Homo sapiens: one gene and its partner. The protein of the gene in region 1 purifies or fractionates together with the protein of each later gene. This does not show direct contact. Each region holds a gene or a part of one and is shown in the gene's direction. Other genes may lie near its edges.

Region 1 (7,740 bases):
AGAAACTGTAAAAGATGAACTTCTGCAATATGAATTTGAGAAATAAAAAAAAAAAAACAACTGTACCTCAAGGAATGAAATTACCACTTTAAATCAAGAAGACAACATTTTTAACCCAAAACTAGGAAAATTAAATAGATGTCAAGGAGAAGATACCTGTTTAAAAACAGAGTATAAATTTAAAAATCAAAACCCCTTAAAATTTTATTAAAATCAGATAATACTTCAAGAAATCTTGTTGTTTTAAATATAAGGAACCAGACTCTGGTTCTGTATCAGTGCCTGTCCCCTGGTCCCCTACCTGAGAACGTTTAATTTTTAGAAAAACACACAAACAATTTGTTTTTAATTCCAGCCAAGTCAATAACACATAAAACTTCTTTTATTAGCTCATCCTTTATTAGTCCTCTTCAACTTTAGACCTTTTATTTTCCTAACCCCTACCTCTTAGTCCTATAATTTTTCTTTTTTTAAAAATGTGGGATAACCAATCATTTTATCTTATCTGACTATGATACAGACATTTATTTTGTATATATGATTTAACATAAAATTTTAAGACTTTAAATTACATGAGTTCATTTATAAACATTTATTTCATTTACAGTTAATTTATTTTTTAACAATTATACCTATATTTCTTACAAAAATTGAGATATTAGATGGAGCTGGTCATTATTTCAAGTTTTTTTAAATTAAATAATTATATAGCCTGTTAACATGAGGTGTTTACCCACATAAGAGCCATAAAGTTAAATACATGGGTATCTGTAGATAACTCAGAAAATACAACTTTTGTTTTTTTCCTTACAGGCAAAGGCTCACTCTGTTGCCCAGGCTAGAGTGCAGTGGTGTGATCATAGCTCACTCTAGCCTTGAACTCTGGGCTCAAGGGATCCCCCCTCCTCAGCCTTAAGAGTAGCTGGGATCACAGGCACATGCCTGGCTAATTTTTAAATTTTTTTATGGAGATTGGGTCTTGTTATGTTACCCAGGCTGATCTCAAACTCCTGGGCTCAAGTGATCCTCCCACCTTGGCCTCTCCAAGTTTTAGCATTGCAGGTGGGAGTCACTACCCAGCCACAGCTGTTTTTGTTAAATAATATTAAATTAATCTTATTTATCAAAGAATTGCATAAATATATATCACTTTGCTTTAGGCCTGGTTTATAGCTTCATGACCTTAATAGCACAGGCAAATATAAAACTGACCAGTGCTGGTGCTCAGAAACTGATATGCCAAAACATGGTATTTGACACGCTAAACTAAAGAAGCCTCAAGGTCTCTCTGACTTTTCCTCCAACCCCACCATCCTTCCCAAAGAAGCTGAAGTTCCTTTATCTGCCTAACAACCAGACCCACCAAGGAGAGCAATTGTTGGTTCTCCTCCTCCTGTTATCTCATCTGTTAAAGAAAAGAAGACCAAAATGTAACCACACCCAAGCAGACCTTTATAGAAGTACAATGACTGCCTCCAAGGATTATTTAAATTCCAAAGAAAACTATTTACAAGTTAATATCTGTTGCTCAATCCAATCATTCTCTCACCAATCATTCATTGCCCCTCAATAAATTCCTCTTCTCCTCCCATAATCTGTTTTACCAGAATCCAAGCCCCCCATTCTTTCTGTAATTTCAAGACTAGTGTATAAACTTCTATAACTCATTGAGAAGTTGGGTCTTTATTCTGAAAGCTCCTGTGTATACACATTAAATACATTTGTATGTCTTTTCTCTTACTAATCAATGTGGCCCATGTCAGTGATTTTCCAGCAAATCTTTGGGGGGCTGAGAGCCATAGCCCCCACACCAGTAAACACAGGCAAAAATATATATTGACAATTAGAAAGACGTTTTTAATTTTATTTTATCAACAATTTTAAAACCAATTACTTTTTTAAAGATTAAGTTACATGAACTAAAAAAATTAGGTTAATTACTATGTTTTTGTGTGAGTGCCCATCTATTTAAACCAATCAGATTAACATTTCTTAAGGGATTTTTGGCCTACCACACTGAATTTTATTATGTAGACATAACATACAACATAATACATGTACATATGTGTAAATATATTTAAACAAATATACACATAAAGGTCTTCTAGCTTTTATTTTAGAATTTTAGTTGTGAGATAGTAAAACATATAAACTTGCTGGTTTATAGAGAACAGTTGGATCCAAATTATTTTTCTGGTAAAATGAGATAAAGGCTATGAATCAAATTTTGGTAAAACAGTTTGAGTTAATTACCAGTGCAGGGACCAAAGGGAAACTTCAGTGAAGGCTCACTGAAAAATCAACCTGCAAAAGGCAGATTAATTGGAGAAAAAGCATACAAATGTATTTAATATGTATACATGGGAGCCTGCAGAATGATGACCCAAGCATATAGAGGAAATTGTCTATTTTTAACTTAGGATTAATAAAATATAGACAGCAATGTAGAAATATGATTGGACAGAAAGAGTATGAGCTAATGCCAATAAAATGAGTGGGGAAACCCAGTGAAAAAAGCCAAACTCTGTAAAATATTTAGAGGTTTATTCTGAGCCAAATATGAGTGACCACGGCCTGTGACACAGCATCAGGAGGTCCTGAGAACATGTGTCCAAGGTGTTTGGACTATAGTTTTCTTTTATACATTTTAGGAAGACAGAAGATACAGGCAAAAACATCAGTCAATATATGTAAGGTATACATTGGTTTGACCTGGAAAGCCGGTACATTTTGGAGGAGGAGGGGTTTGGCCAGTGGTGGCAGGAGGGAGGTTGTGGAAGCCAGGGTTCTTGTTACATATGTGAAGCCTGTAATATGCTTCAGAAAGAATAGATGGCATATGTACCTCAAAAGGTAAATGACCTTAAACGGTGTCAGACTCTTAGTTAAATCTCTCCCGGATCAGAGAAAGACCTGGAAAGGGAAGGAGATTGTCCACAGAACACAAATTTCCCTCGCAAAAGATAGCTTTGCACAGGACCATTCCAAAATATGTCAGAAATATATTTTGGGGTAAAATACTTTGATCGCCCTTAGGGCTGCTACCTGTCATGTGATGCTATACCAGAATCAGGTTGGAATTTGTTTTGAGACAGGTTCTCACTTTGTTGCTCAGATTGGAGTACAGTGGCTGTGATCACGGCTCACTGCAGCCTCGATCTCCTTGATGTGGGAGGCTCAAGTGATCCTCCCACATCAGCCTCCCAAATAGCTGGGACTACAGGCGGCCACCACCACACTGGGCTAAATTTTTTTAAAGTAGAGACAAGTTCTCCCCATGTTGCCCAGGCTGGTCTCTAACTCCTGGCCTCAACCTCCTTATTCTCTAGGATTACAGGCGCCAGGCTAGACCTCACAGGTCTTTAGACTTCTACGCACCAGGTACCTGGTAGGGGGAGGGATTATAGTGGCAGAAGAGCAGTACCAGTGGCCCACACCACACACCCTGGCCTCAGCTGGCTGGGGCACACAAAACCAGGTGCTACCGTCAACGACTAGGCCCATAGGGTACTGCTGTCAAAACCTGCTGCCAACAACTTCCACACACTCCCCAAAACGCTCGGTAGGCGGTGGTGCGCAGCTTTCAATGCATCCGCCGCCAGGCGCTCACAGGCAAGGGAGAAAGAAGCCAGACGGAGCTCGGAGATGTGGAGGGCAGACGCAGGCGCATTTGGAAAAGGGACTGGCGGTGGGAGGCGCAGAGGGAAAAAGGAACGACACAATCGGGCTTCCTAGCCGCTGGCGGACCCGATGGGGCGTCCTGCGAGGGTTCGGCGAGGGTTCTGCCAGGATAGTAGCATTGCGCCCAAGGAGTGAGAGGCACCCGGGGCTACTGGAGCCAGACCCTCAACCCGCCCTAGTGGGAGGCGAAGAACAACGAAAGCCTCGTATTCCCATTTCTCTAATGGCTAATGACATTAAAGGTTTTCATATGGTTATTTGCCATCTGCATATCTTCAGTGAAGTGTCTGTTTATGTCTTCTGACTATTTTCTAATTGGATTTTTAAAAATAATTGATTTTTGAGTTATTTACATATTCTAGATACTGGTTGTATGCCAGATATATGGCTTGTAAATATTTTCTCCTAGGTAAACCTTTTCAGTATCGTTACAGGGTCTTTCACAAAGCAAAAGTTTTAAATTTATGGAGTCTAATTCATCAACATTTCTTTTTACCGGTCTTGCCACTAATGTCAATTTAAGAACCTTTTGCCTAGCCTTAGACAATAGTTTGTTGTTTTTTAAAACCGTTTTGTAATTTTACTCGTCACAGTTATATCTAGCCACTTAATTTTTATGTAAGGGTTATTTTTGGCGGGGGGGAATCTATAGATGTCCTGTCTTTTCAGTATCATTTGTGGAAAAGATTATCTGTCCTGCATTAAACTGCTTTTGGACTTTCGTCTAAAATCAGTTGGACCGGTTTTTGTTGGCAAAGTTTTGCCTGAAGCTTATTCCAACAGGTGAGAAAAAGTCCACAGTTTAACAGTTCCTCCCCAACCTGTAACCCCGCCTTGAACTTCTGGACTAGCCCCTCGATTGTTGTAGATGCCAAGCGGACCTCGCGCCGCTCTGCGTTGGGCCAGCCCCTCACAGCTGGTTTCTTACCACGTATTGCGCAAGCGGAATCTATGCCTGTTACCCACACTCCCTGCGCCCCCGCACCCCGCTCCTGTGCGCAAGTCGGAATATAAAACCGCGGAGGAGTGAGCTCTTGGGGTGTCCAGTTGGTTGCCGCGGCAGTCTCTCCGAGCAGCGCATTTGTCTTCTAGGCTGCTTGGTTCGTGCCTCCGAGAAAGGTAAGTCTTTCTTTCGCTTTTTTAGGGGTACTTGAAAACAACAAGTGTCAGACAAAGCAGCAGATGCTGTTGCGCAGTAGAAGTTTATGGGCGAGTTGTCCCTGAAACTGGAACCAGGTCTTTCTTGGCGCGATTACGCAAGAACCACCCGCAGCCCTGCGGGCTCCTGGCAGGTCCTGCAACTGCACTTTGGATAGTCCCGTTGGGAAGCTAGCACTTTTTAATATAGAAGAACGAGGTTTGATAAGTGTGCGAGCTTAAAGGTTGACACAGTGTCCACTATTACAGCTGCGTAGGTAGCTAGTGTTCAGGAAGTAATAGTGGAGTCATGTAGTGTGAAAGTAAGATTGAAATGGGCGAGGAGGGTAGCAGCCGCCACAGCCACCAGAGAGAAACCTGACCTTGCAGGTGCGTGGTGATGTCCATGAGCCAGGCTGGTGCCGCAACAGCAGCGGCGGGACCTTGAGCTCCGCACGGCCGCTGGGTTTGGACGCCCTCTGGTTCCTGGAAACTTTCACCTCCCCCTCAGCCTGAGGCCAGGTGGCCTGGGAAGGTGGAAGGAGTGTGGAGGGGAGTGGGGGGGGGGGTCCACTGCCTGAGAATGAGAATTCTCTTCACATCTGGAAACTTCAGTTATCACGTGTGTCCTTTACCAATTTTTTTTCTTTTATTTTCTTTTTGATAGAGACGGCGGTCTCCCTATGTTACCCAGGCTAGTCTTGAACTCCTGTGCTTAAGCGATCCTCCCACCTTGACTTCCCAAAGTGCTGGAATTACAGGCATGAGCCAATGCGCCCGGCTGCTTTACCAATTTTCTATGAATGAATTTGTACATACATCCCCTAGAGCAGGAAGTAATGTAAAACAGAATAATTAGTAATGCACATTTCCTAATGTGGGATGTTGGTGGCCAAGAGATATTTGGTCTTTACTGGAACTCTTGATACTAACATGGAGTTTATAATAGTTGTGGAGAGTGCAGACAAGGCTAGGATTTCTGTGACTAGAGAACTCTTAGTGCGTGAAGACCTAAGGAAAGCTGGATTGTTGATTTTTGTTAATAAATAAGATGTGAAAGATTGCATCACTGTAGCAGAAATCTCCTAGTTTTTTAAGCTAAATTCTATTAAAGGTCATCATTGCTAAAGGAATTGTGCCCAGGATTTGGATAGCTGATGTCATTACTTAATATTAGATGATATCAACTAACCACATCTCATAGACTGGAATAAAGTGCTAGATTTTACCTGAAAGCTGCAAAAATGAATGGTTTAGATATATGTATGTATTTATTTTATATCAATTTCAAATATTTACTGTATTAACCTCCCTGGCCCCCTTTAATCAAGAATATAAAATCATCTACTTAAATTTTGCCACTTAAGTTTAGAACACTCTTAGAATCACACTATCTTAAAGAAGCCAGACTAGAATTAGAAGCAAGTTAAGTCTGAAGATATAACAACCAGCAACAACATTTTTTTTTTTCAAATGAAAACTCTAATATGGGGTGGGTATGTTGTGTCACACCTGTAATCCCAACACTTTGGGAGGCTGATGCAGGAGGATCACTTGAACACAGGAGTTCAAGACCAGCCTGGACAACATAGCAAAACCCTGTCCCTACAAAAAATAAGAAAATTAGCTGGGCATGGTGTCACATGCCTGTAGTCCCAGCTACTCGGGAGGCTGAGGTGAGAGGATTGATTGATCCCAGGAGGTTGAGGCTGCAGTGAGTCATGATCGCATGACTGCACTCCAACCTGAGGGACAGAGCAAGACCCTGACTCAAAAAAAAAAAACAAAAAAAAAAAAACCACCACCAAAACTCTAATATGGACATATTACTCTCTCATGGGACTTGCACATTCTAAAAAGGGTCCTTTTCCCCAGTACTGGGAGAGTATGTGTTCAACTACGCAGCCAGCAAGACAGGCTAGTTTATATAGGGAGTGTGCTATTCACAAAAAGCCTCTCTTCTCTTTCTGGTATTGTACATGACACAATCATAGCTGTACCTGAAGAGAAGTGCATTTTAAGGACCATCATCACCTAGAAACATGTATAAATTTCTATACCTAGTGCCACAGGAATGACATTGCCTTGTACTATTCCTACCTCTGTCCAGAGGCCAGCTATGTGGTCTGTCTGCATGGTGCCTAGAACTTTTTCCATCTGACCTAGGATGCTTCTGAAGCAGTCCCCCTGGGCAGCTGTCTGGTATTTAGGATATACCTGTGAGAAAAGTTTCTTACAAACCTAATCTACTATGTTTATTCCTGAACTCAAAAAGTTCATTGACTGTTCAAATCCTGAAATTTTCTCTATTTCCATAAGGCTGAATTAAAAGTACTTTGTTAAAGGTAGTAGCCATGGCAAAAGAAAAACCACTGTTCTGTAGAAAAACTCATTCAATATTTACAATCTTTTCTAATCAGAGATTAGATCCTGAAGAGAAAGGTTCATATATATATATATATATATATATATATATATATTTTTTTTTTTTTTTTTTTTTTTTTTTTTTTACTCCACTGTCATTGTGACTAAGGATTCATGAACTAAGACCCCTCCCTCAGCTCTTGGTGGCACATGGTGACAGCATGCTCAGAGCAAAGGTGCTCCCCATGCCTCTTCTGGGGCTGCACTGACTGCAGGTACCTCCCCTCTCTACATCCCACACCACTGATACCAAAAACCCCCTCCTTTCTCCTGTACTGATGACTCTGTAGCTTTAACCAGGGCGGCGGTGTCACTCTAAATGTCACCTTGGCATTCAGCCCCATAGAGTGGGGAAAATTCCCTCACCTGTTTCTCTTTGACTGTTCAGTCCTCTTCAATTAAAATCTTAATTTTACAAGCGAGGAAATGAGAGTGTTTCTTGTAGGGGTGTAGTGAGAATTTAATAAAACAGTTTAAGGAAAGAAAACAAAAGGTAGT
Region 2 (7,521 bases), about 140 Mb from region 1:
GGGCAGAGTGGCTGTTTGGAGAAAGGCAAGATAATTTTACAGTCTAGAAGAGAGCCTGGAAATGCTCCCTTCCACAGAAGTTCCAGCTCCTGCAGCCTAGTTCCGTCCTCATGCAACCTTCCTTCCGTGAGGTTCTGCCTACCAAGAGGGAAGGAGGAAGGACCTGTGCAATGAGCTTTAACCCGAGACAGAGAAAGTGAACAAACTGGAAGTCCAGCTGGCAAATGAGTCCTTTTTGTGTCCATATGAATGAGTTCGCCTAGGTGAAATAATTCAAAAGTGGTTTCTGAATTTGCAAGTTGAGAACTCAGCTCTGGATTCTTGGTGACCCCAAGTACAGGAGGCCTGAAAGGCCCTGTCTGAGAATATGCACTAGGCAGCTCCATCTCCTGTACTCACCTTTTAACTCCAGTTAAGAAGCTATCATGTACACCCCATCACTGAGAAGATGTGGAAAGTGAGGCCCAGAGAGGTTTAGTAACTTCTCCAACATCACACAGTAACTTTTAAGGGCCAGTCCCTGAACTGTCATCCTAAAACTCATTAGGTGTGTGATCCTTTCAAAATGCTCTACTGGCCGGCATGTTTAGGGATGAGTAATGGAGAGAGTCATAAAAACATACTTTTAAATTAAATTCTTTTTTTCAAATTTTCTGTACATTGTGCTTTAATTACCATCTCCAGCCCCAAGAGTAGAAGGGCTAAAGAAAGAATGGGCATTCAGTCTAAAGTCTTAACACTGACTACCTGAGCCTTCAACAATTTCTGGTATTAACATTATATAGCACTGCACCCAAGAAATTCACAGATGCTTTTAATGAGTGTTTCTGTATAGATAGCAGTGCCTTTATTTCTAGATTGAATTTCCAGGCATAACTGGAGAACTTAGACCCAGTTTCCAGCCTCCAAGAAAAATAAGTTCCTTTTGCTGCTAGCCCTCATCTGCTATTCTTTTTTTTTTTTTTTTTTTTTTGAGATGGAGTTTTGCTCTTGTCGCCCAGGCTGGAGTGCAATGGTGCTATCTCAGCTCACTGCAACCTCTGCCTCCCTGGTTCAAGCGATTCTCCTGCCTCAGCCTCCCGAGTAGCTGGTTTTACAGGCATGCACCACCATGCCTGGCTAATTTTTGTATTTTTAGTAGAAATGGGGTTTCACCATGTTGGCCAGGCTGGTCTTGAACTCCTGACCTCAGGTGATCCACAAGTCTAGGCCTCCCAAAGTGCTGGGATTACAGGTGTGAGCCACTGTGCCCGGCCTATTCTTTAAATTAACAAATATAAAAATTCAGTGACTGTTCCCAGCCTCTTACTGTACAGTTTCACTCTCTGCACTGTTCCTGTTTCCCCTTTGCTGCTACGTGGGTTTCCTGCTCTGACCATTTCTTTCATATGGTTTCCCTCACACCTCTGAGACTTTAGTGCTATTTCTGGGCTTTATTGCTGCATTGTCAGTTGTTTATTCTTTGTTCCACTGCCTGTTCCTTTGAGAGCAGCTGAGAAATCAAACCTTGGCCTTCATGTTGTTGGTAGAGATTTCACTTCATATTTGTAATAATTATTCATTTATGTTTTGAGAGATTTCCCCATCAGTTTTAAGATTGAACATTAGAAGTGATTTACTGTCAGCCAAAGTCAAATATAATGTGGTTTTCACAGGGTTTTGTTATTTTATCTTTCCAAGCAAGGTACAGCTTTATACACTCATGATTTTTGATTACCAAAATTCAGAAGTACGTTTGTGTTTAGCAGTTTTTACGAGAATCTTACAAGATCATTTTAAACTTTCATTAAAAGCAAGGAGAGGTCCAGAGGGCTTTGAGATTGCAGTTTGTCTGAAGCCCTTGACTTTCATTCAAATTGGCAGTCTCTTTTCCAAAAAGAGCATTATTCTCTCATCTTTAAAGTATGCTGGGTTTAGTCAGTTTGGATACTAAGCAAGTTATCAGGAGATTTCTCAAACATTAAGAAGAGAAAGCCAAGCCGTCTTACTCAACCCAGGGCCACAGCCTCCAGGGGTGTTGGTGAATAACAGTATAGTGTCCCTTCATTTTAATCTATTCCTGCCTGTGTTGACACTCTACTAGGACAACCAGATGAAAAGGGAAAAAGCTCGAGTTGAGGTACCAAAGTCTTTTGCCTACACAATGTTAGAGGGAAACAAAGTCTGACTGAAGTGTTCTGCTGTGTGGTAAATATTACTCTCTCCAGAGAACATGATTATAACTTCTCTAGAACCTGGAAAATGTACTCCCTGCCCCCTCTGCCCCGCCCCCAACCACCCACCAGGAGGGAATAAAGCACATTGTCTGGGAAATGGCTGAAATGCAGGCACAAAGTAGGTTTTCAGAAGCGGCTATGAGTTGAACCTGTTTTTATATGGGTCTAAAAATCTCCCAATTTAGTCTGTTTAGTTATTGAAGGATTGCTATTGTGTTTGCAAGCATCACTGACTTTTACATCTTCTTATTGGTTCTTCTTTGGGTATCAAATCTTCGCATTTGGAGGAATGTATTTTTTAAATAAAGCGAGGCACAGCAGCCCTTAGTAGAAAGCAAAATGGTCTTCAAACTGCCTCTAGGCCATTTCCATGAGGATATCTTGACCCATAAGTGGCTTCCGAATTTCTGTATATGAGGGGCTAGTTGATAGGATGTTTGAAGCTGTGTTTACAGATGATCAGAAAACTGTCACTCATCCATATCAAAGGAGAGGAAGTTATGGAAGTCCTAAACCCATTAATCCACCCTTTAGCACTGCCCAAACCCAGACTTCACTTCAAATTAAGCACATTAAAAATGGAGTTCATATTTTCTCCTAAAAATCAGCTTCTTGGCCTCCCTTCCCAACTTCCTCACCTGTTTAAGGCAGTATTTTCCTTGTCAGGTTAGAAACATTATAACTATCTTTGTTCTCCTACCTAGCTTCCTCCTTCCCAATACCCAATTAATCATCAAATTCTATCATTTTTTCCTTAATAATGTCTTGAAAATTTTCCTCCATTCTTTATATTCCAGCAAAACAGAAACAGAAGGTGAGGATCCAGCTCTCCAGTCTGGATGGGGAGACTAGAAACACACTACATACAAGTGAAAAAAATTTCATAGGAATTACAAGAATACCAAAACAATGCAAAATAACAGCTCCAAACAAGCCTTGTATACACATCTCCAGGCAATAGCTGGCACTGCATTTGTCCAGTAGTAATCTAGGGCAGTGGGTGGGGAGGTCCTTCTGCTGCGCAGGGGCTGTGGTGAGGCCTTTCAGGTCCAGCTTAAGCCACTCTGATTCCAGCCACCACCCCACCTTAGATGGGCAAGCTGTTCCTTTCCAGATCAACTCATCTCCACCCACAACACAGTGCTTATGTATTCAGTCTAAAATAGCACAATTTATCAAGAGTATTCCATCGTAATTTTAAAATGTCGTGTTTATATTTTACCTCCACCTGGACAGAAACTCGTTCCTTTGTATTCTTACTGCCCCTCCACCTCCCCATAGCAACCAGCACAAGATTCCACCGTGTGTAGTCTATAAATAAATGTTAAATCATAGAGCCTTAGAATTTTGGAGTCAGACGGGGATCTTCAGAGTTGCATTTGTCCAGTCCTTTATAGATGGGGAAACAGGTCTAGAGAGATTAGGTGACTTGCTCAAAGCCACACAGCTGGCTATTGACAAGGCAAGGAGCAGAGCCCAGGTTTCTCCTGCCTGAAGTCTGTACCCTGAACTGTCCTTAGATAATCAGTGACAGACACCTGAGTTCACACAAGGTCTCCAGGGGTTGATGGTGATAGGAGAAACTGGCTTTCCCAAAACATGTACAAAGATTCGGTCCACGCCCCTAGCAGACCTTCGGGAGGACTAACTCCTCAGCTCGGCGTCCAGCAGAGTCCCAAGTTACAGTCGCACTTGTTTATGCGTCTGTCGGCCTCCTCCGACAGGACCGAGTACTCGAGGGCCCCGCGCTCAGGGGCTCCCCTCCGGCCCCTCCCCCGCCGCCGAGCTGTCACACAGCCGCCGCGCGGCCCGCCCCCACGTGGACTGGGCTCGGAGGATCAAAGTCTGTTTGCAGACTTTGCAGCCCGGCCCCCGCAGGTGTGCTGGGAGTTGCGATGGTCCGCAGGCCAGGACTCCGCCACACCCGAGGGGACCCGGCCAGCCCCTCCCCCTCCCGCTGCACGCGGCCCGCGCCCCCAATTCGCCCGCCGCTGCACCCGGCCACGGCCCCCCGGCCCACGCCCGGCTCCGGGAGGAAAAGGCCCCGCCCCTATCTGTTGGAGCCGCGACCCCGCCCCCTTCCCGCCCCTCCGAGGCTCCATCCAATAGTGAGCGTGGCTGGGCGGGACGCCGAGGCTGTCGTGAGGGGGTCCTGACCAATGGGGAAGCGTGCCGGGCCTGGTGGGCGGGGCGGCAAGGCCTTGTCACGCTCGGGTCCGTGTGAAAACGGGGGTTCCGAGTGCAAAGCAAAGTTTTTTTGTAAACCGTCTGCAAAGGCGGGGGGGCGAAGAAGGCGCCCGAGACCGGGCCGAGTGCAGCTGCCGTGGCCGCCGCCTCTCTAGCTCCTCAGCCATCCGCTCCTCAGTCCAGCCGCCGCAGAGGAGACCAGCAAGCAGAGCCCTCAGATGCTCGGAGCTTTCTCGGCGCGAAGCTGCCCGTCGCCCTCTCCTGCCGCCCTCGCCCGCCGCCCTCCTGCTCCTGCTCCGGCTGCGGCTCTTGGTACCCCGGCTCCGGGAGCCCAGCTCCCCGCCACCGCCGCCGCCTGGGTGTGGGGGCTGCTGAGGCTGAGCCGGGCCTCGGCGCCGGCTCTGAGGACGGACGCCTGAGGAGCTGCGCGGCGCGGCGCCGCCGGCTGGCGGAGAACGCCCACAGGCGCGGGGCTCGGCGGCTTGACCCGGGCTTGTCCCCGTGCGGCCGCGGGGGCCCCTCAGCGGTTTCCCGAACGGCCCGACTCGGGCGCTCCTCCGTGTCGCGGTCGCCGACCCTCCGCGTCCCGCCAACGCCGCCGCTGCACCAGTCTCCGGGCCGGGCTCGGCGGGCCCCGCAGCCGCAGCCATGGGGTGTTGGGGTCGGAACCGGGGCCGGCTGCTGTGCATGCTGGCGCTGACCTTCATGTTCATGGTGCTGGAGGTGGTGGTGAGCCGGGTGACCTCGTCGCTGGCGATGCTCTCCGACTCCTTCCACATGCTGTCGGACGTGCTGGCGCTGGTGGTGGCGCTGGTGGCCGAGCGCTTCGCCCGGCGGACCCACGCCACCCAGAAGAACACGTTCGGCTGGATCCGAGCCGAGGTAATGGGGGCTCTGGTGAACGCCATCTTCCTGACTGGCCTCTGTTTCGCCATCCTGCTGGAGGCCATCGAGCGCTTCATCGAGCCGCACGAGATGCAGCAGCCGCTGGTGGTCCTTGGGGTCGGCGTGGCCGGGCTGCTGGTCAACGTGCTGGGGCTCTGCCTCTTCCACCATCACAGCGGCTTCAGCCAGGACTCCGGCCACGGCCACTCGCACGGGGGTCACGGCCACGGCCACGGCCTCCCCAAGGGGCCTCGCGTTAAGAGCACCCGCCCCGGGAGCAGCGACATCAACGTGGCCCCGGGCGAGCAGGGTCCCGACCAGGAGGAGACCAACACCCTGGTGGCCAATACCAGCAACTCCAACGGGCTGAAATTGGACCCCGCAGGTGAGCCGGGAAAGTCGCTGCCGCAGGTGGTTGGGTTTGGGGTGCCCAGAGCCTCGCCTGGCCTTCGGCGGGGTGGCCCGCACGCCCCCTGCTGCCCGAGCGGGCCTGCGCCGCGCCGCCCCTGCCTGCTCCCTCCCCGTCCTGCACACGCCCCGCTGCTGCTCCAGGAAATCAGAACCCCCTCAGTCGGGTGCAAGGAGCCGGCGACGCGTCTGGCATATTTGTAGGTGGGGGCTGTGGGTCAGACCCTAAGAAAAAGGGTCAGGAGGTGATCATCATCCCGCTGCAGTCCACACCCGCACTTGGCTGTCTTTACAGGCTGCAGCAACTTTGCTGGAGACTTGTCTGGTTATGGTTATAACAGCGTCAGAAATGCTTCCCAATTCAATTCCTTGGCCCTCTTGGGAAACGGAGAGAATCCCCAATTCGTCCCCAGTAGTTGGGTGCTGGAAACCTTGCTCTGCCAAAGTAGTTCTTATGCCCATTGAACTCCGTTTCATAATATGCATTCAGAGCGTGTAAACCCTGGTTAAAGGTTTCTTTTATGAACAGCAGTGTATGCTTCAGCTAATTGATCCCTAATCCTGGAAATCATAGATTTAGGACCTGTCTGGGCATGTTTAACATTTTCCCAGGACTTTTCATAATCGTACTGAACTAAAAGTGATGGTAATTTATTCATCTTATATTTTTAGTGGATGCTTTTTATATTTAACATTAAGTGCTCTTGAAGGAAATTTGAAAATAAATGTTGAAAGAAAGGAGATGGAAATGACTCAACCAGTGTCCTACTACCCAAGCTCAATGGTGCTTAACAATTTGGTCTTATTTCCTTCACTTACGTTTATTTACCTTGTATCATTATAAATTATGCTACATAATTTTCCTTTTCGAGTGCAGAATATGAAGTTAGTGAAATTCAAGTTGTACATTGGAAAGGTTTAATAAGTAATTGGTTTTCCTCTCACTCCACTCGGCAAGGTGTTATTCCAAAGAAAATTAAGTTTCTCTGGTGTGTAATTTCAAAAGATCAATACTTTTTATCTTTTTGAATACTTTTGATCAATACTTTTTGAAAAGATCAATACTTTTGATTTAAAAGTTAGTAGGGCAGGTAGTCATTTAGTTTCAATTTTTCTAATAATCTCTGTGATTATTGATTTTTATTGTTGATTTGTCAGTTTTTAAACCCCCCTACCAAGAAACTTTTATATTCATAATAAAAGTTTAAAAGTTAAAATTGGTTTTATTCTCAAGCAATTGGCCTCAGTGACAAAGAGTGACTAGAGAGTGCCCGAGTGTCAAATCAGGTATTTTGTATTAGTAGACTTATTCCTAGCTGCATTTAATTTTGGTGTTAGCATTCAATTTTATGTTTTCCTTTGTATATACCATAAAGTATAGCAGAATGGTTGCAGGACTCCACCCCCATAGAAAATATACACTATTTTGGAGAGGAGGAGGCAGGAGAGTGGTTAGGAGGGTGAAGAAGCAGTATCACAATGACTTAATTTAGCCCTGGCTATTATGTCCTGGCTCATTCCCAGAATGTCAATTTATATTAAATTGCTCTGAGCACATTTTTTTAATTGTACTTTCTGAAAAAATTTTCACCTTCATCACCACTTAAAAAGAATTAGACAAGGATGTTTATATAAACACTTTAAATGTATTTGATATAAAATTTTTATTTCTTTGTAGACCCAGAAAACCCCAGAAGTGGTGATACAGTGGAAGTACAAGTGAATGGAAATCTTGTCAGAGAACCTGACCATATGGAACTGGAAGAAGATAGGGCTGGACAACTTAACATGCGTGGAGTTTTTCTGCATGTCCTTGGAGATGCCT

What was found.
Region 2: the proteins of DIRAS3 (region 1) and SLC30A1 purify together in Homo sapiens (affinity purification with mass spectrometry; 4 studies listed by BioGRID and IntAct, with this or other methods). This does not show direct contact.

The regions. Positions count from the first base shown.
Region 1 is NC_000001.11:68,047,608-68,055,347, reverse strand, and holds the start of DIRAS3 (GTP-binding protein Di-Ras3 precursor), read left to right. Parts: upstream 1-4,720; 5' UTR 4,721-4,800; intron 4,801-7,740.
Region 2 is NC_000001.11:211,576,143-211,583,663, reverse strand, and holds the start of SLC30A1 (proton-coupled zinc antiporter SLC30A1), read left to right. Parts: upstream 1-4,502; 5' UTR 4,503-5,051; coding exon 5,052-5,673; intron 5,674-7,374; coding exon 7,375-7,521. UniProt on the Homo sapiens protein: Zinc ion:proton antiporter that could function at the plasma membrane mediating zinc efflux from cells against its electrochemical gradient protecting them from intracellular zinc accumulation and toxicity.